Linked DNA regions of Homo sapiens. The protein of the gene in region 7 purifies or fractionates together with the protein of the main gene of each other region. This does not show direct contact. Each region holds a gene or a part of one and is shown on either strand. Other genes may lie near its edges.

Region 1 (3,500 bases), on a different chromosome or scaffold from region 7:
CTTACTAGTCTTAACTGGCATTAAATTTATAAAAATGATATAAATGGTTAACTGGAAAGTTTTTACTTTTAAAGGAAGTCATTAAAAACCTAACTAAGCCTGGGCAACATAGTAAGACCCCTGGCTATTTTATAAAAAATAAAAAAAAAGCCAGGTTTGGTGGCTTGTGCCTTCACTGCACTTCAGCCTATGTGACAGTGCAAGACCTCATCTCAAAATAAAAACATAATCTAGTTGTTTTCTGGAAAATTTTTAGAAAAGATAACCTAAGTTTTATTTCTGAAATAAGTTACAGTATAATTAGCTATTACTTGTTAATTTGCTTTTAATACTCAATTCAATTACAGTAAGAAAATAAATCTTTTTACAATGGAAGCTTTTAGTAAATGTACAGAAGTTGACATAATTTAGTAGTATATGCAATTCTGTTAGATATTCACCTACATTTTGAAAGGTTGAAATGCAGCTACCATTTAGCTGCTTTTTGTAATGGTTCAGTATAGTTCTAAATTATGTTTATATTTGTCCATTTAAAATAAAGATAAGTACTAACTTATCTTTATTAAATTATTGCTTATATAAATAAGACATAGATATGTTTTATCTGTAATATATTAGGTATGATTGTATTTTCTTCTGAAATGTAATTTCTTGCTCACCAGTTACAAGGGCCCATTGTTGGAAGATGGAGCGCTCTCTCAGGCAGTCTCTGCTGGAGCCAGTTCCCCCGAGTTTACCAAACTCTGTGCTTGGCTGGTGTCTGAATTAAGAGTGCTCTGTAAACTAGAGGAAAACGTGCAAGCAACTAACAGTAAGTAAACATTCACTTTTAGGTACAAAGTATAAAAATAACATTGAGGTATTGTCAACTGAACATTATCAATACTAAAGCTGAAAGTTGCAAGTTTTTGTAAATGTAAAAAATTTGTAAAGAAGCCAAGATTTTTTTTCCGTCCGTTGTTTTTAGAGGTGATTCAGAAGTTGAAATACCAGAATAAAGTCATGTAACTTAAAAATTCGTGGATGCTGAAAAGACCCTATTACTGGGATACAGAGAAATGGAGACCACAAGCATAGAATGTATGAACTTCCTATATTTTGTAAGATGTTAAATGTAAGATCCTAGATTGATGGCTAGAACTAGATACTGGGATATTTTTCTTTTAGGATTACCAGATTCTAGAAGCATCTATAGCATGTAGAGTAAATGCATTATTATTCTGTTATGCTTGGGGAGAAAGAGAACACTTTGTTAAGACATTTTGTTTATCATAAGAATGCATCGTTAGATACATCACAGTGAGATCCAGGACAATCAAATTTATGGATCTGAGAGCTGTTCTGCATTTACCAATTTTGTTTCCACTGTTGCACTAGTTTGTCGACACTGCAAAAGAGGCAAAAGCTTGGAACCTACCACTCTACCATCTGGTTCCTTCCTGCTGTAGGTAAACCTATAATAGGAGACCAAGGAAAATACTCACCTGTTAACCCACCCTTATGGAGAGCTATACATATAATTCCTTTTTTTCCACATAATCACGTTTTGAAGAGCTCACCTTCTTGCATGCTAGTGTGTGTGTGTGTGTGTGTATATATATATGTGTATATATATGTGTGTATATATATATGTGTATATATATGTGTGTATATATATATGTGTATATATATGTGTGTATATATATATGTGTGTATGTATGTGTGTGTGTGTGTGTGTGTGTGTATATATATATATATAATTTTTTTTTTTTTTTTTTTTTTTTTAACTTTATGTTCCGGGATACATGTGTAGAACATGCAGGTTTGTTACATAGGGATACGTGTGCCATGGTGGTTTGCTACACCTATTGACCTGTCCTCTGAGTTCCCTCTCCTCACCCTCTAACCCGCAACAGGCCCTGGTGTGTGTTGTTCCCCTCCCTGTGTCCATGTGTTCTCATTTTTTAACTCCCACTTAGTGGTGAGAACATGTGGTGTTTTTTTTCTGTTCCTGTGTTAGTTTGTGGAGGATGATGGCTTGCATGCTGGTATATTTAATGTGTACGTGTTAGTTGCATTCAGTTCTAATTATTAAGGAGAGTATAGTGTAACAGTAATGATAGCAACAGCTTACATTTATTGTGTACTCACTATGTTCTAAACACTTTATATGTGTTAACTCATTAAACCTCAGGGCAACCCTATGAGGCAGGTTTTATTACTGTTATACCTTTAACAAGAAAGCCCAGAGAATTTAAATACATTGCCTGAGGTCATACAACCTGTAGGGGTGAAGCCTGGTTTCAACCCCAGAACAGTAGTCAAGTTCTGAGCCAGTGTGCTTGAACACTGTGCTATACTGCCTCTTGACCAGATGTTTGAGAGACTGTAGGAACCTTTGAAAACACCAGTACTAGATGATACCTCTATTTAACCTGGAGCCCCTTTTTCTCAAATGAAACATGATACAGAAGCTAACATGTAAAACAGGTTAGAAGGTATTCTAACAAAGTAGAGACGAGGTACCTTTAGCCCAGCTCTTTCCTCCTCATCCTCCCAGCTGCCTCTAAAAGAGCTCTGTGGAACTCAAGGGCTCACAGATCACAGTTTGCAAAATATTCATAATGTAGGCTTCCTGTATTACAGATTAGAAAATGGACTCAGGTGATCAAGTGACTCTCTCAGAGTTTGTTAATTTCTTCCCCTTTGTGATAGTGAATAGAGAACAATCAAAATAATGAAGAAAGAGCTTTGTTTTTCCTTTGGTTCACCCAGTGAACTCTATACCTTTTTTTATATGCTGTGGGAATACAAGACTGTAAGTCATGTTTGCTGTCTTCAAATTTTTTCTAATTGAGAATGTTAGGCACAAATTAAACAACTGGAGATAAGTACAGTCCTTTTGTTTGTTTGTTTTTAGACAAGATCTCACTCTGTCACCCAGGCTGAAGTGCAGTGGCGCGATCTGGGCTCACTGCAACCTCTGCCTCCCAGGTTCAAGCAATTCTCCAGGTCAGCCTCCTTAGTAGCTGGGACTACAGGCATGTGCCACGACAACTGGCTGATTTTTGTTATTTTTCTTAGAGACGGGGTTTTGCCACGTTACTCAGGCTGGTCTCGAACTCCTGAACTCAAACCATCCACTCGTCTCGGCCTTCCAAAGTGCTGGAATTACAGGCATGAGCCACCGTGCCCGGCCAAGTACAGTACTTAAATGCTGAACCACTTTGTGGTTCACAGAGAGAGGAAATCAGCAAGTACGAGGGTGAAGTTTCAGCCAAGTACAAGGAAGGTTTCATCAAGGAGCAAGGCCACTGGGCTTTGATGGATGGGTGGGATTTGCTAGAGGGGAAGAGAGTAGAGGACATATCTGTCACAGGGAATAACTTAAATGAAGGCACAGAGTGGAAATAAGACTGGCTATTCATGGGACAGTGAGGAGACTGGCCTGGCACACACAGGAAATATTTGTGGAGGGAATGTAGGTGATTATAGCTGAATATGCTAGGAAGAACAAACCT
Region 2 (3,500 bases), on a different chromosome or scaffold from region 7:
GTGGGCTTGCTATTAATGATTTTGCTCATTATCTTTTTTATTATATTTAAGTACTTATATCCTTGTTCATGTGCTAATGCTTTATGTGTATTATTTCAAATAAACCTCACAATTCTATGAAGAGGCACTCTTAACTCTGTTTGACAGGTGTGGTTCAGGGAATGGCGTCGTTTGTCCTCGGTTTGACAGGGGCAGAGTTGGAACTAAAGTCTGTCTGAATCCATAGTCTAGGATTTTTTGTTTGTTTGTTTGTTTGAGACAGAGTCTTGCTCTGTCACCCGGGCTGGAGTGCAGTGGCCGATCTCGGCTCACTGCAATCTCCACCTCCCAGGTTCATGCCATTCTCCTGCTTCAGCCTCCCGAGTAGCTGGGGCTACAGGTGCCTGCCACCATGCCTGGCTAATTTTTTGTATTTTTTTAGTAGAGACAGGGTTTCACTGTGTTGGCCAGGATGGTCTCTATCTCCTGACCTCGTGATCCGCCCGCCTTGGCCTCCCAAAGTGCTGGGATTACAGGCGTGAGCCACTGTGCCCGGCCTAGTCTAGGATCTTAAATATACATTAGGATAATCTCTTTCCTTGTTGCCAATTTTTTTTTTTTTTTTGCTCTGTGGCTTTAGGAAGAATTACTGAAAAACCTGTTAAGACCCACAGTGTTATTTGTTTGAGCCATCAGATGGCAAGTCTTTAAAGCCCCTTAGCTCCAGTGGTTTGAAGTAATCATTTTATTATTAAGACACAAAATAGTTACATCAACATTGTGGTGAATTTCTCAGCTGCCCAGACTGGAGTGCAGTGATGCAATCACGGCTCACTGCAGCCAAGTGATTCTCCCACCTCAGCTTCCCAGGTAGCTGGGACCACAAGCACACGCCATCACGCCTGGCTAATTTTTTAATTTTTGTAGAGATGAGGTCTCCCTGTGTTGCCCAGGCAGGCTGGTCTTAAACTGTGGGGCTCAAGTGATGCTCCTGCCTCAGCCTCCCAAAGAGCTGGGATTACAGGCGTAAGCCACTACACCTGACCTGGTGAATTTATAAAATAAAAAAGTATTTGCTAGTGGCAATAATCAAAAGCCATCAATCTATCATCTTTTCCCCAGCCCAACTTTATTAAAGTAAATATGATATCAACATATAGCACAGCTCATAAGCACTGCTCATATCTAGAAGTGTATGCGATTGTAAGATTTTGCTTTTTTTCCTATCCTTTCTTAGGTGTTTGTAAAATGTATGAAGAACATCTGAAAAGAATGAATCCCAACAGTCCCTCTATCACATATGACATCAGTCAGTTGTTTGATTTCATCGATGATCTGGCAGACCTCAGCTGCCTGGTGTAAGTATTAGCCAACATGTCTTTTATCTTGTATTTTCTATTGCTTTTCTGTCTGTTTGAGGTGATTTATGGTATTGGGAGCTAATTATGTGCCTGATACTGATCTTTGCATTTGCATAGTGTATAGTAATTAATATTTCTCTTACAGAAATAAGAGATTGGCAACATAAAGCCAAAGGCACAGAAAAAAATAACTTTGCTAATTGATATAGTTAGTATCCAGAAAGGATCCTAATTCAGAAGTTCCATGTGCCTCTTCTTTGTTCCTTATACCTAATTTTTTTTTTCCTTTACAGTCTTTGTCTTAAAGCCATTGGTTTTGGATTAAAACTAAGATTATCTTTTTTTCATGACATTTCAAAAACTTAAATATGCGTATAGCTGAAATTTAATTTCAATCCTACGCTGTGTAAGTACGTATATTTTGGTATGTTAGAGTGAGATTTTTTAACATATTTGTTATAGTTTGTATTGATAATCTGCTTCTGACAATTACTAACAAGGAGCATAAAGTGTTACTGTAGACTTACCTAATCTTTTTTACATTAGCGAACAGAAATTGAGTGTAAATACAGCTCATTTAACCGAGGAAAATGGAAGCACCTTATGATACAATACTCAATCATCAGATACTTGAATATTTATTACATGTCAGGTGCTGTGCTAGAAGTTGAAAGAGCAGTGATGAGAAATATACAAGTCTTACTCATAGGCACTTCCTGGATCACCACTGGAGCCAATCATGGAATGTGGCTGCACCATGCTGTCTCCCCAAAAGTTCCAAAACACGCATTTCCTTGGGATGTTTGAGTTTTGTTTTCTGTACCTCTTCATTGTGTTCCGGTTGTAGCCATTTCACTTTGATCACTCAGAACATTCAAATGAATGTTGCATGGTACTTTAAGCCATTCAGACATCTATAGGAAAAACATACCAGACAGAGGGGATGAGGGACAGCTAGTGTAGAAGTCCTGAAGTAGGAGTGCCTAGCATGTTTGAAGTCATTAAGGAAGCCTTTGAGGCTGCAGAGGAATGAGTGAAGGAGAGTGTCTTAGGAGATTGGAGGAGCAGGGAGCAATGATATCCTGGAAGCCAAATGCAGAAGTGTGTCATATCATTGATAGGACAGATATGTGAGGACTGAGAATTTAATTGACCCCTGGATTTGACACTGTGGAAGTCTTTGGTGACTTCCAGAACGGTTGTGGTAGAGTGCCAGGAGTAAAATGCTTACAGATTTCAGTGTATGGAAGGGAATGAAAAGAGAGGATTTATAGGTGGCCATTACAGGCTTGCTTTTTTTTTTTTTTTCCTTTTTTTTATTTAAAGAATTTTGCTTGAAAGAACAGAAAAATGGGGTTGTAGCTGGAGAAAGAAATTGCTTTTTTTTAAGTGGGAAAAGTAATGGTAAGTTTGCAGGCTGATGGGATGATGTACCAGAGAAGGAGAAACTGATAGCTCAAATTGGCTCTTGGACAGTTCAATCATAAAAAAGGGAGGACAGGCAAATTTGGGAGCTGGGGGGAATTATCTTCTGTATGCTTCAGTTATCTCAGAAAGATAAGGAGCAAGGACATCATTTGAAACAGGTGTTACAGGTTTGTGGAAAAGTAAGAAATAAGCTAGGAAGGTGAAAGAATTAGGGAACTGCAATTAATTCAGGGATGCATTAAGTGTCCTCCAAAGTACCTATCTGATAGTGATTTAAAGTGAAATCAGTCATTGTGATCATGGGATTTTTTTCCTAGTCTCTCTCACCTGGATGGTTACAGGTGAGGAGTAGGTAGAGAGTAAAGATTTTGCTAAAGGTTGAGGGCATATATGAGGACAACAGCAACGACTGAATGACCATGAGCTTTAATTGGGGGTGTAGGAGGAGGTGCTGGAAACAGAGGTAGATCAGTTCATTGTAGGTCCCACTGGATCAAGGATTGCTCACATTAGAGTGTTAGGAAGTGGTGATCAGAGAATGACATGCTTGAAATTAGGAAATTGAAGTAGTTGGAAATGACAAGGTCTAGGGATCTGGCCAAGAGAGGGTAGGAGATGAGATCATTAGAGGAAAAGACTTCATGGAATTGGGAGGCCTAAGTGTTGACAGAATCATCCACTGGATATGAAATTACCAATAATGTGTATATTAATTGATAGAATTTAAGAAGA
Region 3 (3,500 bases), on a different chromosome or scaffold from region 7:
ATGGCCTAAATTTAAGCAAATACATTGCAGAAGCTGTAGCTTCCATCGTGGAAGCAAAACTAAAAATCTCTGATGTGAACTGTGCTGTGCACCTCTGCTCTCTCTTTCACCAGCGTTATGCTGACTTTGCCCCATCACTTCTTCAGGTCTGGAAAAAACATTTTGAAGCAAGGAAAGAGGAGAAAACACCTAACATCACCAAGTTAAGAACTGATTTGCGTTTTATTGCAGAATTGACAATAGTTGGGATTTTCACTGACAAGGAAGGTCTTTCCTTAATCTATGAACAGCTAAAAAATATTATTAATGCTGATCGGGAGTCCCACACTCATGTCTCTGTAGTGATTAGTTTCTGTCGACATTGTGGAGATGATATTGCTGGACTTGTACCAAGGAAAGTAAAGAGTGCTGCAGAGAAGTTTAATTTGAGTTTTCCTCCTAGTGAGATAATTAGTCCAGAGAAACAACAGCCCTTCCAGAATCTTTTAAAAGAGTACTTTACGTCTTTGACCAAACACCTGAAAAGGGACCACAGGGAGCTCCAGAATACTGAGAGACAAAACAGGTGATTTTCAAATGTTTCTCAGAGTTGAGAATTTATTTTGGAGCTCATACTTAAAAATGTTTAAAGTCTTCATGCCACTGAAAGAACTTATGGAAAAGGGCTCCTTACAGGTGATTTCTTAACATTCCAGGAAAATTTCAAAGTAGAACAGTCTGAGTACTCATGTTTTAATGTGAGTCTACGATAGATTTTGTTTCTGATTTTAAAAAAATCTGCCAAGTAGATGGTGATTTTTGCTTTGTGGATGTGTATTCTTCCTGTGATTTTAAATACTCCTTAATAATCAAGGGGTAAAATTTCCTTTTCTGTCACTTAAACTTACCTGCTAATATTTTTCTGTGTGCTTTAACGTTCTCTCTATAACAGGTTTGCTTTCATTGTTTTGTATTTTAAGTTCTTTATGTCACTGTTGCTCTTCTTAAGAAAATGAGTCATTAATTACCAGTGGTATTTCAGATTAGAGTTTTGGGAAATAATGCACAAAATTAGCTGTGAAAAAATTTCTTAAATGCAACTACAAAACTCATTTGTAGGAGTCTTCTTCCTGGGGGCATTCATTTAAAATTCTAAAGGAGGAATGTACTGTGCCTGTGGTAATTGGTGAAAAGACCTGACTTTGGGGCCAATTTTGGTTGTTAAAAGGTATGGTAGACTACTGTGTAGTATTTGTACCTGAGGAGCAACAAGAAGCTAGAAGTTGATGGAGTTGCTAGGCATTAGGTCAATTTCTATGGAGGATGGATTTGGAGGGGGGCTGAGGGAGTGTAGCAAAGAGGTAATAGCCATAGCACGTGGCTGAGTATTAAACTATTTTAATATTTCTACAACTATTTATATTGCATGGTTGAGAATCTGAAATTACTGTTGATCAGAAATTTGTATAGGAGGAGATCCTTTTCTAGTTTCATAAGTCTGTGGTAGGGGAGGAGTGGTTTAAGTAGTTACCACTAGAAGATGATTGACCAGAAGATTGAACAGGAGTAGTGTATGCCAGTAGTACAGTTAGGGCAGGGTCAAGGTAGAGACTGTGGTTAAATCTTTGTGGCTGAAGGTCACTCAGAGGTGAGAATTTAAGACGGCAAAGGTGTTATCAATAGTTCTTTTAGGAAAAAGGAAAAGGCTTATCCTTGTTTTGTGTTTTGATTTGCGAGGACTGGTTTAAACTTTGAAGAGGCAACCTGAGAGTGTACTTGTACCATCAGTAATGGACTAAAAAGGATTATGGTGGTGCTTTATTCATACTTCTCACTTACTTAGGGCTTAATTATGATTTCCATATGCTTTGTCAATTTCATAGTCCTTTGCTCGTACATCCTACCTAATACATCATAACTGATTTGTGAGTATGCTAATAGTATGCTAATGATTGATTAGTTCTTGGCTACTTTGAGGGTGTATGTGTGTGTATTTGCTTTTGATTGGACTCAGAATCTTGGAGAGTGGAGAGATTCTACGATGTTTTAATCCAATCCATTCACCTTTCCAAAGTAGGAATACATTTTTTAGATTATCTAACAGATAAAATTATTTTTCCTCTGAATACTTCCCAAAGGAGCTCAGTTCTCTCGGTGCCATTGCACTGTTGGAAACACTATGGGCTAGGAATTCTTTGTTACATCAGGTGGAAATTTAACTTCCCACAAAATGATTCCCTTTGATTTGGTTCTTTTTTCTGGTATGGATGGAATACAGGTACTTGAAGTAGGAAATCTATGAACTTGTAACCTGTTCACAATTTAATGAAACACAGAAAGTGAGAGTGAGCATTTAGAAATTATTATAGGAATTTTCAGGCTGGAAATGGTGGCTCACACCTGTAATCCCAGCACTTTGGGAGGCCAAGGTGGGTGGATCATCTGAGGTCAGGAGTTTGAGACCAGCCTGGCCAACATGGTGAAACCCCGTCTCTACTAAAAATGCAAAAATTAGCCGGGCATGGTGGCAGGCCCCGGTAATCCCAGCTACTTGTGGGGGACTGAGGCAGGAGAATCACTTGACCCTGGGAGGTGGAGGTTGCAGTGAGCCGAGATTGTGCCATTGCACTCCAGCCTGGAGGACAAGAGCGAGACTTCGTCCTAAAAAAAAAAAAAAAAAAAAAGTTTATAGGAATTTTCAGTGGTCATGGTATTCTTACTATATTTTTACAGAAGTGTCCAGTGGTTGGGGAAGGAAAGGTGGCCCTTTACCACAGATGGTTTGAGGAATACCAGTAGAGGACATATGTGTCCACTTTTATTCCCATGACAGTATCTCAGATATTCAGACTGCCGTGATGTTTCCCTTTTCTCGTCTCCATGTTAAATACCTCCAGTTCTTTCAGTTTGCTCCATGATTTCCAGACACTTCACTACTCTTAGGATACTTGTTTTGGATGCATTCTTTTCTATCTGTGACCTAAAATTGCCTTAGTTTTTATAGCTACCTTGTTGTTCTTTTGGTTTTTGTTAAACTTATTTGCACTGAAGCTTTATTTCTCATATGAACTGCTGACAAGCCACTTCTTCTTCACCTTAAACTAGTGAAATACAATTTTTAAAGCCTAAATGTGTACTTGCATATCTCTGTTAAACTTTATTTAGATGCTTTTTGTATATTATTTTAGCTTTATGAAAGCTTTGGATATTGATTACATGTGTATTATTAATAGTACTGGCAGGGTGCGGTGGCTCACGCCTGTAATGTCAGCACTTTGGGAGGCTGAGGCAGAAGGATCGCTTGAGCCCAGGAGTTTGAGACTAGCCTGGGCAACATGCTGAAACCCCATTGCTACAAAAAATATAAAAATTAGCTGGGTGTGGTGGCATGCGCTTGTAGTCTCAGCTACTTGGGGGCTGAGGTGGGAGGATCAGTTGAGCCTGGAAAGTCGAGACTGCAGTAAGCCATGATCGCACCACTGCACTCTAGCCTGGGCGACAGAGAGAGACCCTGTCTCGAA
Region 4 (3,500 bases), on a different chromosome or scaffold from region 7:
GAAAAAGAAGAAATGAAGAGCAGAGTTCATAAATACATAACAGAGGTGTCACGATGGGAGAGCTTAATGGCTGCCAAGGTGAAAAATATTATTTAGGTTGGATTTAAGACTGAGGTTTTTTTTTTTTTTAACTTTTTCATGTGCCTCTACAATTAGATATTAAACATTTTAAAGTAGAGATCTTGTCTACTGCCTTTTTCTATTTTTCCCATAGATTTTAGTGTGGTACCTGCACAGATATCTAATGCTTCCTAAATTAGAACAGAATGCTGTGTATGTGTATGTGTTTATGACATAGGTGTTCCAGGAAGTGACAATTACTAATTTAGAAACAATTTTATTGTGATTAAACCAGGAAAAAGAAAATCAAGATTTGTTAGATAGATTTCAGATGCTTCATAACCGTGCTGAAGACTGGGAGGTCAAAGCCCATCAAGCTGAGGGAGAAAGCAGCTCAGTTCGACTGGAACTTCTTTCTATTGACACTGAGAGGAGACATCTTCGAGAAAGAGTGGAGCTATTAGAAAAAGAAATTCAAGAGGTAATATATTTATTTGTTTTGTAAAGATGTTATTTAGTGAAACAGAAAACATTCAAAGATACTTTATTTATTTATTTATTTATTTTTTTTGAGATGAAGTCTGACTCTGTTGCCCAGGCTGGAGTGCAATGGCACGATCTTTGCTTACTGCACCCACCTCCTGGGTTCAAGCGATTCTTCTGTCTCAGCCTCCTGAGTAGCTGGGATTATAGGAGTGTGCCACCACACCTGGCCAATTTTTTGTAGTTTTAGTAGAGATGGGGTTTCACCGTGTTGGCCAGGCTGCTCTCGAACTCCTGACCTTGAGTGATCCACCTGCCTCAGCCTCCCAAAGTGCTGGGATTACAGGCATGAGCCACCGCACCCGGCCTCAAAGATACTTTATTGACCTGAGGTCGTAAACATTGATAAAATCAAGTTCAGTGGTAAATTTCTGTCATTCTCATAATTTGCATAGAAGCCCATTACTTTTTTTTGTAGTAAAAGATACATACATCAAATTTCCCATTTTAACTATTTTTAAGTAGACAGTTCTGTGGCATTAGTACATTCACAATGTTGTGTAACTATCACCATTATTTGTCATTCTGCTTTCTGTCACTATGAATTCGATTACTCTAGATACCTCATATAGTGGAATCACACAATGTTTGTCCTTTTGTGACTGATTTCACTTAGCCTTAAGGTTTACTTTACCTCAAGGTTCATCCATATTGTGTAGCATGTGTCAGAATTTCATCCTTTTTTAAGGCTGAATAACATTTCATTGTATGTATGTACCACATTTTTGTTTAGCCATTCCTCTGTCAATGGACATTTGATTTGTTTCTACCTTTTGGCTGTTGTGAATAATGCTGCTATGAACATGAGTATACAAATATATCTGTTCGGGTGCTTGCTTTCAGTTCTTTTGGGTATATACCCAGAAGTGGAATTACTGGATCATATGATAATTCTGTGTTTAATTTTTTGAGGAATAGCCATGTGGTTTTTCCGTAGGTGCTACACCATTTTACATTTCTACCAGCAATGCACGAGGGTTCCAGTTGCTCCATATCCTTGCCAACACTTGTAATTTTTTTATTTTTTATAAGAGCCGTCATAATGGGAATAGAGCGGTATCTCGTGGTTCTGATTTGCATTTCCTTAATGGTTAGTGATGTTGAGCATCTTTTCATTTGTTTATTGACGATTTGTGTATCTTCTTTGGAGACATGCTTATTCAAATCCTTTGTTCATTTTTTAATCAGATTGTTTTAAATTGTTGTTGTAGAAGTTCTTTACATATTCTGGAGATTAATACCTTAGTGTATACGTGATTTGCAAATATTTTCTCCCATTGTGTGGGTTGCCTTTTCAACAGTTTTTGATGTACAGAAGTTTTCAATTTAAATGAAGTCCAATTTTTTTTTTCCTTTGATGCCTATACTTGTGGTGTCATATCCAAGAAATTATTGTTAACTGCAATGTCATAAAGCTTTTCCCCTATGTTTTCTAATAAGAGTTTTATAGTTTTAGCTCATATATTCAGGTCTTTGTTTCATTTTGAGTTAATTTTTACAAATGATATAAGAGCCCAGCATCATTTTTTTGCATGTGGATTTAAATAAGATTTTGTCATAAAGACAGTCTGATAAAAATCTCATAATAAAAAATTTGAGTTCAGTTAAAATATAGGGACCCTGGGTTAGATTGATATACAATAGTTGGCCATTATTGTCATTTTTGTTTTGTTTTGTTTGTATAGTTTTATAATTTTTATCTTTCAGGAGAAAGTATTGACTATCTGTAGCAGATAGAATTATAGCCTCCAGAAAGATATATTGAGCCCCAGTCTCTTATTTGGAAAAAGTGTCTTTGCAGATGGAATCAAGTTAAAATGAGGTCATAGCGGATTAGGGTTAGACCCTAAGACCAATGGACTGATGTCTTTATAGGACAATGGATATTTGGACACAGAAAACACAGGAGAGAACACCACGTAAAGATGGAGGCAAAGATTAGAGTGATATGTGTAGAAGTCAAGGAGTGTCAAGGACTGCCAGTAGCCATCAGAAACTAGGAGAGAGGCAAAGAACAGATTCTGCTTCAGAATCTCCAGAAGGAACCAAACCTGCCAACACCTGAATTTTGGACTTCCAGCTTACCGAATTGTGAGAGAATAATTTCTATTTTTTTAGGCCACACAATTTGTGGCAATTTGTTACAGCTGCCCTAGGAAACTAATACAGATTATAGCACCAGAAAGTGGGTTGCTGCTACAACAAACACCTGAAAATATGAAAGTGGCTTTGGAATTGGGTAATGAGTAGAGACTGAAAGAGTTTTGAAGTGCTTGACAGAAAAAGCCCAGATTGCCTTGAAGAGATCATTGGTAGAAATAGGGACATGAAAGGCAATTGTGATGAAGACTCAGAAGAGATGAGAGCTGTAAAGAAAACTTCTATTATTTACAGAATACATATGTTGTCATGGATGGATTTTGCCAGAAATATGAATGTTTCCTCTGGTGATGTCTCAGACAGAGTTGAGAAAAGATGTTACTTGTTATAAAGTGACAGAGAACTTGGCTAAGTTACGGTCTACTGTTGGGAGAAAAGTAGAATTTGTAAGGGATGAACTCGGATATTTAGCTGAGGAGATTTCCAAGCAAAGTGCGGAAGAGACATCCTGGTTTCTCCTTGTTACTTACAGTAAAATATGAGAGGAAAGAGAGAAATGGAGCAAGGAACTGAAAAGCAAAAAAGAAAGCAAGACATGAAGCCAGGTGTGGTAGCTGACACCTGTAATCCTAGTACTTTGGAAGGTCAGGGCAGGCAGATCGCTCAAGCAATCCACCTGTGTCCACCAAAAAACTACGCTCAGGAGTTCAAGACCAGCCTGGACAACATGGCAAAACCCCATCTCTACAAAAAATACAAATAATTAGCCAAACATGGTGGCACGTGGCTGTAGTCCC
Region 5 (3,500 bases), on a different chromosome or scaffold from region 7:
GGAAAGAATACTAAAAATGAATTCCCTATAATGGGATCCAGTATTTCATAGTAAATATTGTGTGGGTGTGTATGTGGGAGGAAATCTGGAAGCTTTATTTCTAAAGTAAAACTTTAATATTATAAAAATAAGTATTTTATAATTGCACCTGTGCATTAATTATTTACATAAACAAAAATGGAATCAGACGTTGATTGGTTTTTGACAGCATAATTTCCCCCAATAAATAGTATAATAAAATTATAGATGTGCTCATTTCATGTTTGACTTTCACTGTGCCATTATAATAGAGGCCATTTTTAAAAGATTAATAATGACCTCAGTTTTTCTTAAAGCCGCTCAGATGACAAATTATTCTCTTTGTATCACGTATTATGCCATCATCCTGGCCACTTGTTAGTTGGTCTGACCCTTATTTGTTCACAGACTCACTTGTAACTCAGGCAATTCTCCAGTTTCTTTCATTGAGTTGAGCTTCTGTATAGTTGGCAAGTTTTCCAGTTCATCTTTGCATTGGGTCTGCAGTGTGCTATCTGAAGTATCAGACGGTCAGTAAGAGAAACCAGCTGGCAGTGAGCAGAAAGATAGGTGTAAAGCAGACAGGGTCTTGAGTGGGAACTCTGTTTATGAAGGGTCAGTTCTTTAGAAATCATTTTCATGTTTAATCACTTTTGCTTTGCTGCTAAGCTTTGTGACTGATCATGAGACCTGATAACACAGATAGTGAGGACTCCACCCCATAATATATTTCATCATCATTCCAGCAACTGTCTTTAATAGGTTCTTTTAAGTATATTTGAACATTAAACAAGTTAAAATCAAATTATATATTGATATTCTTGAAGGCCCTGAGCAAAACATCGATAAGAAATTAGGTGAGTTAGGAGAGTATCATAGCCTCGTGTCTGCACTAGAAACCAGCCAGCAGGAATTTTGCATATACCTGTCAATTAATGGCAAGATTAAATATTAGTGAACCATTTCTGTGATGGACTTCATTTGATTTTAAATATTGCTCTGGAGAATGTTAAACTGAAACCGTTTCCAGATGACTATGAAGATTAGTGCTCAAAGCATCATTTACATGATGCCCTTCCCTTATAGTGATCATTTCATTCACTCTATTTCCTAAAGGCTGCCCTTGGAGCTGGCTTCTCTGACAAGACTCCTGCTCACACTGTCACCATGGCTTGTATCTCTGCCAACCAAGCCATGACCACAGGTATGTTTAAATGGAAACAGACAGTACATGTTAATTATTCTCCTTTGTCTTTTACTTGATTATAAAAATGTACTTTTTTTTTTTTTTTTTTTTTTAACACAGAACCTCACTCTGTCACTCAGGCTGGAGTGCAGTGGTACCATCATAGCTCACTGCAGGCTCAAACTCTTGAGCTCAAGAGATCATCCTGCCTTAGGATCCCAAGTAGCTGGGTCTACAGGTGCTCCACCACACCCAGCTAATTTTTAAATTTTTTGTGGAGACGGGATCTCGCCATGTTGCCCAGGCTGGTCTTAAACCTCTGGCCTCAAGTGATCCTTCTACCTCAGCCTCCAAAGTGCTGGGATTACAGGCGTGAGCCACCATGCTCATCCCAAAAAGTACTCTTAACAGAAGTAAAAGATTAGCACAGATCTCTATACTTGTGTTTTTTAAAAAGTAAGGTCAGGTTTAAAATTTGGGGGTTCTAACCGTAGTTAACCTCTTTTTTTGCTCTCCATACCTGAGGAACATTACCATTGGCGTGGTTCCTCTGTGAATAATGTGGCTGGCTGCAGCAGGGATTATCAACTGGAGGAGTGTATCTCTAGGAAGGTACTTCAGCATCTGAGGCATGAGTAAATAGTTTACAACCTGCCAGGCTTTCAACCTAGGTGCTTCAGATATGATATTTTCCCACAAAGATATGGTCTTCCTTCCTTCACCACTACCATACTTGTAAATCATTGCTTTAGATGGCACAGCTCTTTCCTTCACTTTCTCCTTACATCCTTGTCATTTTTATAAATCACTGAAAACCCCACTAACAAACTTTAGCAAAACTGTGGGATATTTTGTAGCATCAGCTCTTAGTGTGAGGAGGCAAGGAAGCCTGAAAGATTTAGTAATCATGTGCTCATCTAGTAACATCAAGGCCCAGGTGGGCACCCCACCTCATGTGTGGCGGGGAATGATGCCCGTGACTGGGGGCGTTCGCCACTCTAGGCAGCATGTGACCAACTCCTGGTTAGAGAAACAGAATACTGGCCAGTGGCCATAAGGAGAGAGGGGGCCTGCCTTACGTTTCAACAGCTGTAATTTCTCTGCTTTGCAGCAGAAGTTAACATTCTCTTTATAGGATAAAAAATCTTTATTAAAACTAAAGCTGGGAGCATATAAATATGCAAGATGTTCTGGTTTGGAATATGATTTGTTCAAGAGTTGGTCCAATGGATATTCCTAGAAGTTGACGTCCATATGGCAGGAATGAAACTTGTTTTTCTCTAACGTGTTGAATGTGTTTTTAGTCATTTAAGAAAATTACCTTAATTCTTCTGAAAAGTTGAAAACTTTAATTACAGATGTTGTACAAAGCTGATAACTGTCATTCAGCTTTTTAATCAAGAAGCTTAAATTGGAATGGTATGTTATTTTCTGTAAAAGATATTCATGAAGTATAACCTGTGCCCTGTAGGTGTTGGCTTGATTGCTTCTGGCCAGTGTGATGTGATCGTGGCAGGTGGTGTTGAGTTGATGTCCGATGTCCCTATTCGTCACTCAAGGAAAATGAGAAAACTGATGCTTGATCTCAATAAGGCCAAATCTATGGGCCAGCGACTGTCTTTAATCTCTAAATTCCGATTTAATTTCCTAGCACCTGAGGTAAGGCTTGTGTTTGCAGGGCATCCCACTGCAGAGATTTAGAATTAGGTATGGCAGTGTGGACTCTGCTATGCTGTAATAGGTGTAGATTCTGTAGTTACAGGAAAGGGTTAATTACTTGCTCAAGATGGAAAAAAAAGATAGTGGTTAGAAAACTTTAATTTGTGAGCCCTCTTTAGAGATCCTCTTTAGAGATCCTCTGCTTGTCTTGGACTTGATTGATTAATGGTAGACAAATAGATTTTAACTTTTCCAAATAACACAGAACAATCCTAGGTGTTAGCATAACACCGGTTAACAGTGTACCTGCTCCTTGGATATCTCCTTTCCCAGCTCCCTGCGGTTTCTGAGTTCTCCACCAGTGAGACCATGGGCCACTCTGCAGACCGACTGGCCGCTGCCTTTGCTGTTTCTCGGCTGGAACAGGATGAATATGCACTGCGCTCTCACAGTCTAGCCAAGAAGGCACAGGATGAAGGACTCCTTTCTGATGTGGTACCCTTCAAAGTACCAGGTGAAATGAAATGCTTCATGACACTTATTAGGGAGTTCTGAATTGCTCCTAAAACTCAAAAACATCCCGAGTGATTTTTCCATAAGTATGTTGGTTCTGTTTCCAAAGTATTCAGCCTTTATT
Region 6 (2,901 bases), on a different chromosome or scaffold from region 7:
ACTTGTTTTAAAAATATTTAATTCCGATTTGGAACCTTAGATGTCTATTTGATTTTTTAAAAAACCTTAATGTAAGATATGACCAGTTAAAACAAAGCAATTCTTGAATTATATAACTGTAAAAGTGTGCAGTTAACAAGGCTGGATGTGAATTTTATTCTGAGGGTGATTTGTGATCAAGTTTAATCACAAATCTCTTAATATTTATAAACTACCTGATGCCAGGAGCTTAGGGCTTTGCATTGTGTCTAATACATTGATCCCAGTGTTACGGGATTCTCTTGATTCCTGGCACCAAAATCAGATTGTTTTCACAGTTATGATTCCCAGTGGGAGAAAAATGCCTCAATATATTTGTAACCTTAAGAAGAGTATTTTTTTGTTAATACTAAGATGTTCAAACTTAGACATGATTAGGTCATACATTCTCAGGGGTTCAAATTTCCTTCTACCATTCAAATGTTTTATCAACAGCAAACTTCAGCCGTTTCACTTTTTGTTGGAGAAAAATAGTAGATTTTAATTTGACTCACAGTTTGAAGCATTCTGTGATCCCCTGGTTACTGAGTTAAAAAATAAAAAAGTACGAGTTAGACATATGAAATGGTTATGAACGCTTTTGTGCTGCTGATTTTTAATGCTGTAAAGTTTTCCTGTGTTTAGCTTGTTGAAATGTTTTGCATCTGTCAATTAAGGAAAAAAAAAATCACTCTATGTTGCCCCACTTTAGAGCCCTGTGTGCCACCCTGTGTTCCTGTGATTGCAATGTGAGACCGAATGTAATATGGAAAACCTACCAGTGGGGTGTGGTTGTGCCCTGAGCACGTGTGTAAAGGACTGGGGAGGCGTGTCTTGAAAAAGCAACTGCAGAAATTCCTTATGATGATTGTGTGCAAGTTAGTTAACATGAACCTTCATTTGTAAATTTTTTAAAATTTCTTTTATAATATGCTTTCCGCAGTCCTAACTATGCTGCGTTTTATAATAGCTTTTTCCCTTCTGTTCTGTTCATGTAGCACAGATAAGCATTGCACTTGGTACCATGCTTTACCTCATTTCAAGAAAATATGCTTAACAGAGAGGAAAAAAATGTGGTTTGGCCTTGCTGCTGTTTTGATTTATGGAATTTGAAAAAGATAATTATAATGCCTGCAATGTGTCATATACTCGCACAACTTAAATAGGTCATTTTTGTCTGTGGCATTTTTACTGTTTGTGAAAGTATGAAACAGATTTGTTAACTGAACTCTTAATTATGTTTTTAAAATGTTTGTTATATTTCTTTTCTTTTTTCTTTTATATTACGTGAAGTGATGAAATTTAGAATGACCTCTAACACTCCTGTAATTGTCTTTTAAAATACTGATATTTTTATTTGTTAATAATACTTTGCCCTCAGAAAGATTCTGATACCCTGCCTTGACAACATGAAACTTGAGGCTGCTTTGGTTCATGAATCCAGGTGTTCCCCCGGCAGTCGGCTTCTTCAGTCGCTCCCTGGAGGCAGGTGGGCACTGCAGAGGATCACTGGAATCCAGATCGAGCGCAGTTCATGCACAAGGCCCCGTTGATTTAAAATATTGGATCTTGCTCTGTTAGGGTGTCTAATCCCTTTACACAAGATTGAAGCCACCAAACTGAGACCTTGATACCTTTTTTTAACTGCATCTGAAATTATGTTAAGAGTCTTTAACCCATTTGCATTATCTGCAGAAGAGAAACTCATGTCATGTTTATTACCTATATGGTTGTTTTAATTACATTTGAATAATTATATTTTTCCAACCACTGATTACTTTTCAGGAATTTAATTATTTCCAGATAAATTTCTTTATTTTATATTGTACATGAAAAGTTTTAAAGATATGTTTAAGACCAAGACTATTAAAATGATTTTTAAAGTTGTTGGAGACGCCAATAGCAATATCTAGGAAATTTGCATTGAGACCATTGTATTTTCCACTAGCAGTGAAAATGATTTTTCACAACTAACTTGTAAATATATTTTAATCATTACTTCTTTTTTTCTAGTCCATTTTTATTTGGACATCAACCACAGACAATTTAAATTTTATAGATGCACTAAGAATTCACTGCAGCAGCAGGTTACATAGCAAAAATGCAAAGGTGAACAGGAAGTAAATTTCTGGCTTTTCTGCTGTAAATAGTGAAGGAAAATTACTAAAATCAAGTAAAACTAATGCATATTATTTGATTGACAATAAAATATTTACCATCACATGCTGCAGCTGTTTTTTAAGGAACATGATGTCATTCATTCATACAGTAATCATGCTGCAGAAATTTGCAGTCTGCACCTTATGGATCACAATTACCTTTAGTTGTTTTTTTTGTAATAATTGTAGCCAAGTAAATCTCCAATAAAGTTATCGTCTGTTCACTTTGTGTCCTTTCATCTTTTTTCAATTCAAGTGGGTAATAACGTTTAAATAGTGGTAGCAGAAATGATCTTTATAATGTTTCAATTCCATGGTGAATCATATGAAAATGCATATTTTAATATAAAATTTTGTTTACCAAGTTCTGCTTCATGTCCACCTGTAGAATTATATAGTAACAACTGTCTTTTTTGAAGACTTAATTCCAATCTGCTTTTTGGAAATTCTGTCACATTGATTGATGCATTCTAGGTCTTGGATTATTTAGATGATGTGTTTGACACATTCTTGAGGTGAACTTGGCTTTTCTAAAAGCAGGTGGACAGAATGTTCAGCTTCCAGGTTTTTAGGACACATTTCCAATATTGTTGATTAAGAAATAATTCTATCATTTTAGCCTTTTGACCCAACTTTTTTTGTAACTCAGTAAACCAAGCACTAATATGAATCATTTGGTTGTAGAAACAAGATGGTAAGAAGTTTTTTAGAATGAGAAAAAAGT
Region 7 (3,500 bases):
TGGTGGCATACGCCTGTAGTCCCTGCTACTCAGGAGGCTGAGGCATAAGAATTGCTTGAACCCAGGAGGTGGAGGTTGCAGTGAGCTGAGATCGCGCCATTGCACTCCAGCCTGGGCGACAGAGCAAGACTCTGTCTCCAAAATAAATAAATAATAAATAAAATATAAAGGACACCTATCCCTGTTGCAGTAAGAATTCCAAGTATAACTTTTGACTCACCCAAAACTTAACTACTAAGTCAACTGGAAGCCATACCAATAACATAAACAGTCAGTGAATATGTATTTTATATTTTATGTGTATTATGTACTGTACTCTTACAATGAAGCTAGAGAAAAGAAAATGTTATTAAGAAATCATTCACTATTAAGGAAACATACTATTCAGTGGAAGTGGATCATCATAAAGGTCTTCATCATCTTTGCATTGAGTAGACTTCAGAAGAGGAGGGGTTGATCTTGCTGCCTTGGGTGACAGAGGCAGTGGAAGGAGAGGCAGGCATACTTGCTGCAACTTCTATTGAAAAAAAATTTGCGTAGAAGTGGACCTGAGTAGTTCAAACCCCTTGTTCCAGCGTCAACTATACCCAGATGCTGAGCAGGGAAAAATGAGGAAGAGGGATTAATTGGCTTGTCTGGGCCAATCAGGCTGACTCAGCTCTATTTGAAGAGATGGCAGAAACTTAGAGTTTGAGAGTTTCTCAATCAGGAATTCAGGAATCTCATGTTGAGCCTCTTTGACCAGATTATTGGGGCCAGCCTGGGTCTTGAGTGACAGGGCAGTCTGGTTCAGTTCAAGTATCAGACCCAGTAGGTGAGTGAGAGACCAGTGTACATACATCTACCAGGTTTCAGATGTAACCCACCAATGAAGACTAGACCACCTTTCCTTGAACCCATTTCTCTGTGTTCTCGTAGGCCTCCCTAGCCATAGCTCTGCCTCCTTAGGTCCAAATCTGGGGAGGACAAGGAGAGGAGAGTAACCCTATTCTAAAGCCAGTTCCCTTATCATGAGCCTTAGCTGCTGCCTTTTCCTACCTAGAACTAGCCACACGTCCATTTCCTGGCCCTTTCTAATGGCCTAATGATCCTTTGTGTGTAGACCCAGCACTTTCTGTGTCATGAACAGTGTTACCCAATCTTGATGTGGTAAAAGAGGGAAGAAGATAGTAAAAAGAGAGAGAGAGCACTTGGACTAATTTTTTTCATTTCTGAAATGTGATGGTTGTACAAGTTGTCCTTTAAGGTTTTTTAGGTCAAATTTTTGTAATTATGTGATTCTGGATATGTTCTGGCTGCAGGAATTTTCTGCTGCAGAAAACCAGTACTCATAGGCATTAAAAAAAGCTACCATTTTCCAGCTTGAGGATAAGTGCATTGGGAAATCATGGAGTCATTATCAAGAGTTTGCACATCTGGTTGGGCGCAGTGGCTCATGCCTGTAATCCTAGCACTTTGGGAGGCTGAGGCAGGAGGTTCGCTTGAGCTCAGAAGTTTCAGACCAGCCTGGGTAATGTGGTGAAACTCTGTCTCTACAAAAAATACAAAAATTAGTTGGGCATAGTGGTGTACATCTGTAGTCCCAGCTACTTGTGGGGGCTGAGGTGGGAGGATTACTTGAGCCCAGGAAGTCAAGGCTATAGTCAGTTGAGATCACACCACTGCACTCCAGCCTGGGCGACAGAGTGAGACCCTGTCTCAAAAAAGAGTTGCATGTCTACTCATTCAGTTCTCATTATCTATAGACTAAAATATACATCTCCCCCCTTATGTACTACTATTTTTGAATATATGTAAATTAATAAAATGTAAACTTAAAGTGTTATTGAATGTATAACAGTTTGTTGTTTTTTGTTTGTTTTTGAGACAGTCTCTGTTGTCCAGGTTGGAGTGCAGTGGTGCGATCTCGGTTCACTGCAACCTCTGCCTCCCAGGTTAAAGTGATTCTCCCGCCTCAGCCTCCTGAGTAGCTGGGACTACAGGCACGCACGCATCAGTTCATTGTGTGTTTTTTTTTTTTTTTTTTTGAGACAGGATCTCTCTCTGTTGCTAAGACTGGAGCGCAGTGGCACAATTATGGCTCACTGCAACCTCTACCTCCTGGGCTGAAATGATCTCACACCTCAGCCTCCCAAGTTGCTGGGACTATAGGCGCACACCACCATTCCTGGCGAATTTTTTTTTTTTTTTTTTTTTTTTTGACAGGGTCTCACTCTTTTGCCCAGACTAGTATCAGTGGTGCAATCTTGGCTCACTGCAACCTCCACCTCCTGGGTTTAAGCAATTCTCTTGCCTCAGCCTCCCAAATAGCTGGGATTACAAATTCATGCCACCATGTCTGGCTGATTTTTGTATTTTTAGTAGAGACAGGGTTTCACCATGTTGGCCAGGCTGGTCTCAAACTCCGGACCTCAAGTGATCCACCTACCTCGGCCTCCCAGAGTGTTGGGATTACAGGCGTGAACCACTACATCCAGCCTAGCAGTTGTTTGTCATTGTATGTTTTCTCAGTGAATATCTCATGGGGATCCATGAAAATTTTTAGATCCTAAAAAGGGGTCCGCATAATCAAAAAGGTTGGGAATTTCTGCTCTAAGCCATTTTGAGATGGGAGAGTTCACAACTTACGTCAAAGTATAGTTATTAGGCACTGCATGTTTAAGAGACAATTCATGGGCCAGGTACAGTGTTCATGCCTGTAATCCCAGCCCTTTGGGAGGCCAAGGGAGGAGGATTGCTTGAGCTCAGCAGTTTGAGAACTGCCTAGGCAACATAGCGAGACCTCGTCTCTACTAAAAATAAAAAAAAATCAGCCAGGTGTGGTGGCATGTGCCTGTAGTCGCAGCTACTTGGGAGGCTGAGGTGGGAGGATCACTTGAGCCCAGGAGATTGAGATTGCAGTAAGCCATGATTGTGCCACTGCACTCCTGGGCAACAGAGCAAGACCCTGTCTCAAAACAGAAAAAAAAAAAAAGATAATTCATGGAGAGAGAGATTATCAAGGAAGATTAAGCTCCTCTTATATGTTAGGTATCGTATAGTAAGTCTCCCTTCCATTCTTATCCTCTGGGCCCATTAGAGGCTGCCGCTGTTTTTTTGTTTTTTTGTTTTGCTTTTTCGAGATGGAGTTTTGCTTTTGTCACCCAGGCTGGAGTGCAGTGGCACAAACTTGGCTCACTGCAACCTCCGCCTCCCGGCTAATTTTTGTATTTTTAGTAGAGACAGAGTTTCACCATGTTGGCCAGGCTGGTCTCGAACTCCTGACCTCAAGTGATACGCCTGCCTCGGCCTCCCAAAGTGCTGGGATTACAGGTGTAAGCCACTGCGCCCAGCCTGCCACTTTTAATAATTCTTGCATATGTTCCAGGAATACCTATGTGGATATATATGTATGTATGTGTGTATTTTTTTTAATGTGATATTTTTAAAATAGTGTCTTTTTTTTATTATTACTATTTTTTGCGACAGAGCCTTGCTCTGTCGCCCAGGCTGAAGTGCAG

Evidence for each region.
Region 1: the proteins of CASC3 (region 7) and FAM98A purify together in Homo sapiens (co-immunoprecipitation; one large-scale study listed by IntAct). This does not show direct contact.
Region 2: the proteins of CASC3 (region 7) and ERH purify together in Homo sapiens (co-immunoprecipitation; one large-scale study listed by IntAct). This does not show direct contact.
Region 3: the proteins of CASC3 (region 7) and UPF2 fractionate together in Homo sapiens (co-fractionation; 3 studies listed by BioGRID and IntAct). This does not show direct contact.
Region 4: the proteins of CASC3 (region 7) and CEP135 purify together in Homo sapiens (co-immunoprecipitation; one large-scale study listed by IntAct). This does not show direct contact.
Region 5: the proteins of CASC3 (region 7) and HADHB fractionate together in Homo sapiens (co-fractionation; one large-scale study listed by BioGRID). This does not show direct contact.
Region 6: the proteins of CASC3 (region 7) and DICER1 purify together in Homo sapiens (co-immunoprecipitation; one large-scale study listed by IntAct). This does not show direct contact.

Annotation. Positions count from the first base shown.
Region 1 is NC_000002.12:33,592,800-33,596,299, reverse strand, and holds part of FAM98A (protein FAM98A), read left to right. Parts: intron 1-662; coding exon 663-811; intron 812-3,500. UniProt on the Homo sapiens protein: Positively stimulates PRMT1-induced protein arginine methylation. Involved in skeletal homeostasis. Positively regulates lysosome peripheral distribution and ruffled border formation in osteoclasts.
Region 2 is NC_000014.9:69,384,800-69,388,299, reverse strand, and holds part of ERH (enhancer of rudimentary homolog), read left to right. Parts: intron 1-1,216; coding exon 1,217-1,337; intron 1,338-1,962; exon of another isoform or gene 1,963-2,254; intron 2,255-3,500. UniProt on the Homo sapiens protein: May have a role in the cell cycle.
Region 3 is NC_000010.11:12,025,810-12,029,309, reverse strand, and holds part of UPF2 (regulator of nonsense transcripts 2), read left to right. Parts: coding exon 1-565; intron 566-3,500. UniProt on the Homo sapiens protein: Involved in nonsense-mediated decay (NMD) of mRNAs containing premature stop codons by associating with the nuclear exon junction complex (EJC).
Region 4 is NC_000004.12:56,011,445-56,014,944, forward strand, and holds part of CEP135 (centrosomal protein of 135 kDa), read left to right. Parts: coding exon 1-78; intron 79-355; coding exon 356-541; intron 542-3,500. UniProt on the Homo sapiens protein: Centrosomal microtubule-binding protein involved in centriole biogenesis. Acts as a scaffolding protein during early centriole biogenesis.
Region 5 is NC_000002.12:26,275,939-26,279,438, forward strand, and holds part of HADHB (trifunctional enzyme subunit beta, mitochondrial isoform 1 precursor), read left to right. Parts: intron 1-1,134; coding exon 1,135-1,222; intron 1,223-2,675; coding exon 2,676-2,863; intron 2,864-3,196; coding exon 3,197-3,377; intron 3,378-3,500. UniProt on the Homo sapiens protein: Mitochondrial trifunctional enzyme catalyzes the last three of the four reactions of the mitochondrial beta-oxidation pathway.
Region 6 is NC_000014.9:95,085,728-95,088,628, reverse strand, and holds the end of DICER1 (endoribonuclease Dicer), read left to right. Parts: 3' UTR 1-2,401; downstream 2,402-2,901. UniProt on the Homo sapiens protein: Double-stranded RNA (dsRNA) endoribonuclease playing a central role in short dsRNA-mediated post-transcriptional gene silencing.
Region 7 is NC_000017.11:40,157,537-40,161,036, forward strand, and holds part of CASC3 (protein CASC3), read left to right. Parts: intron 1-3,500. UniProt on the Homo sapiens protein: Required for pre-mRNA splicing as component of the spliceosome. Core component of the splicing-dependent multiprotein exon junction complex (EJC) deposited at splice junctions on mRNAs.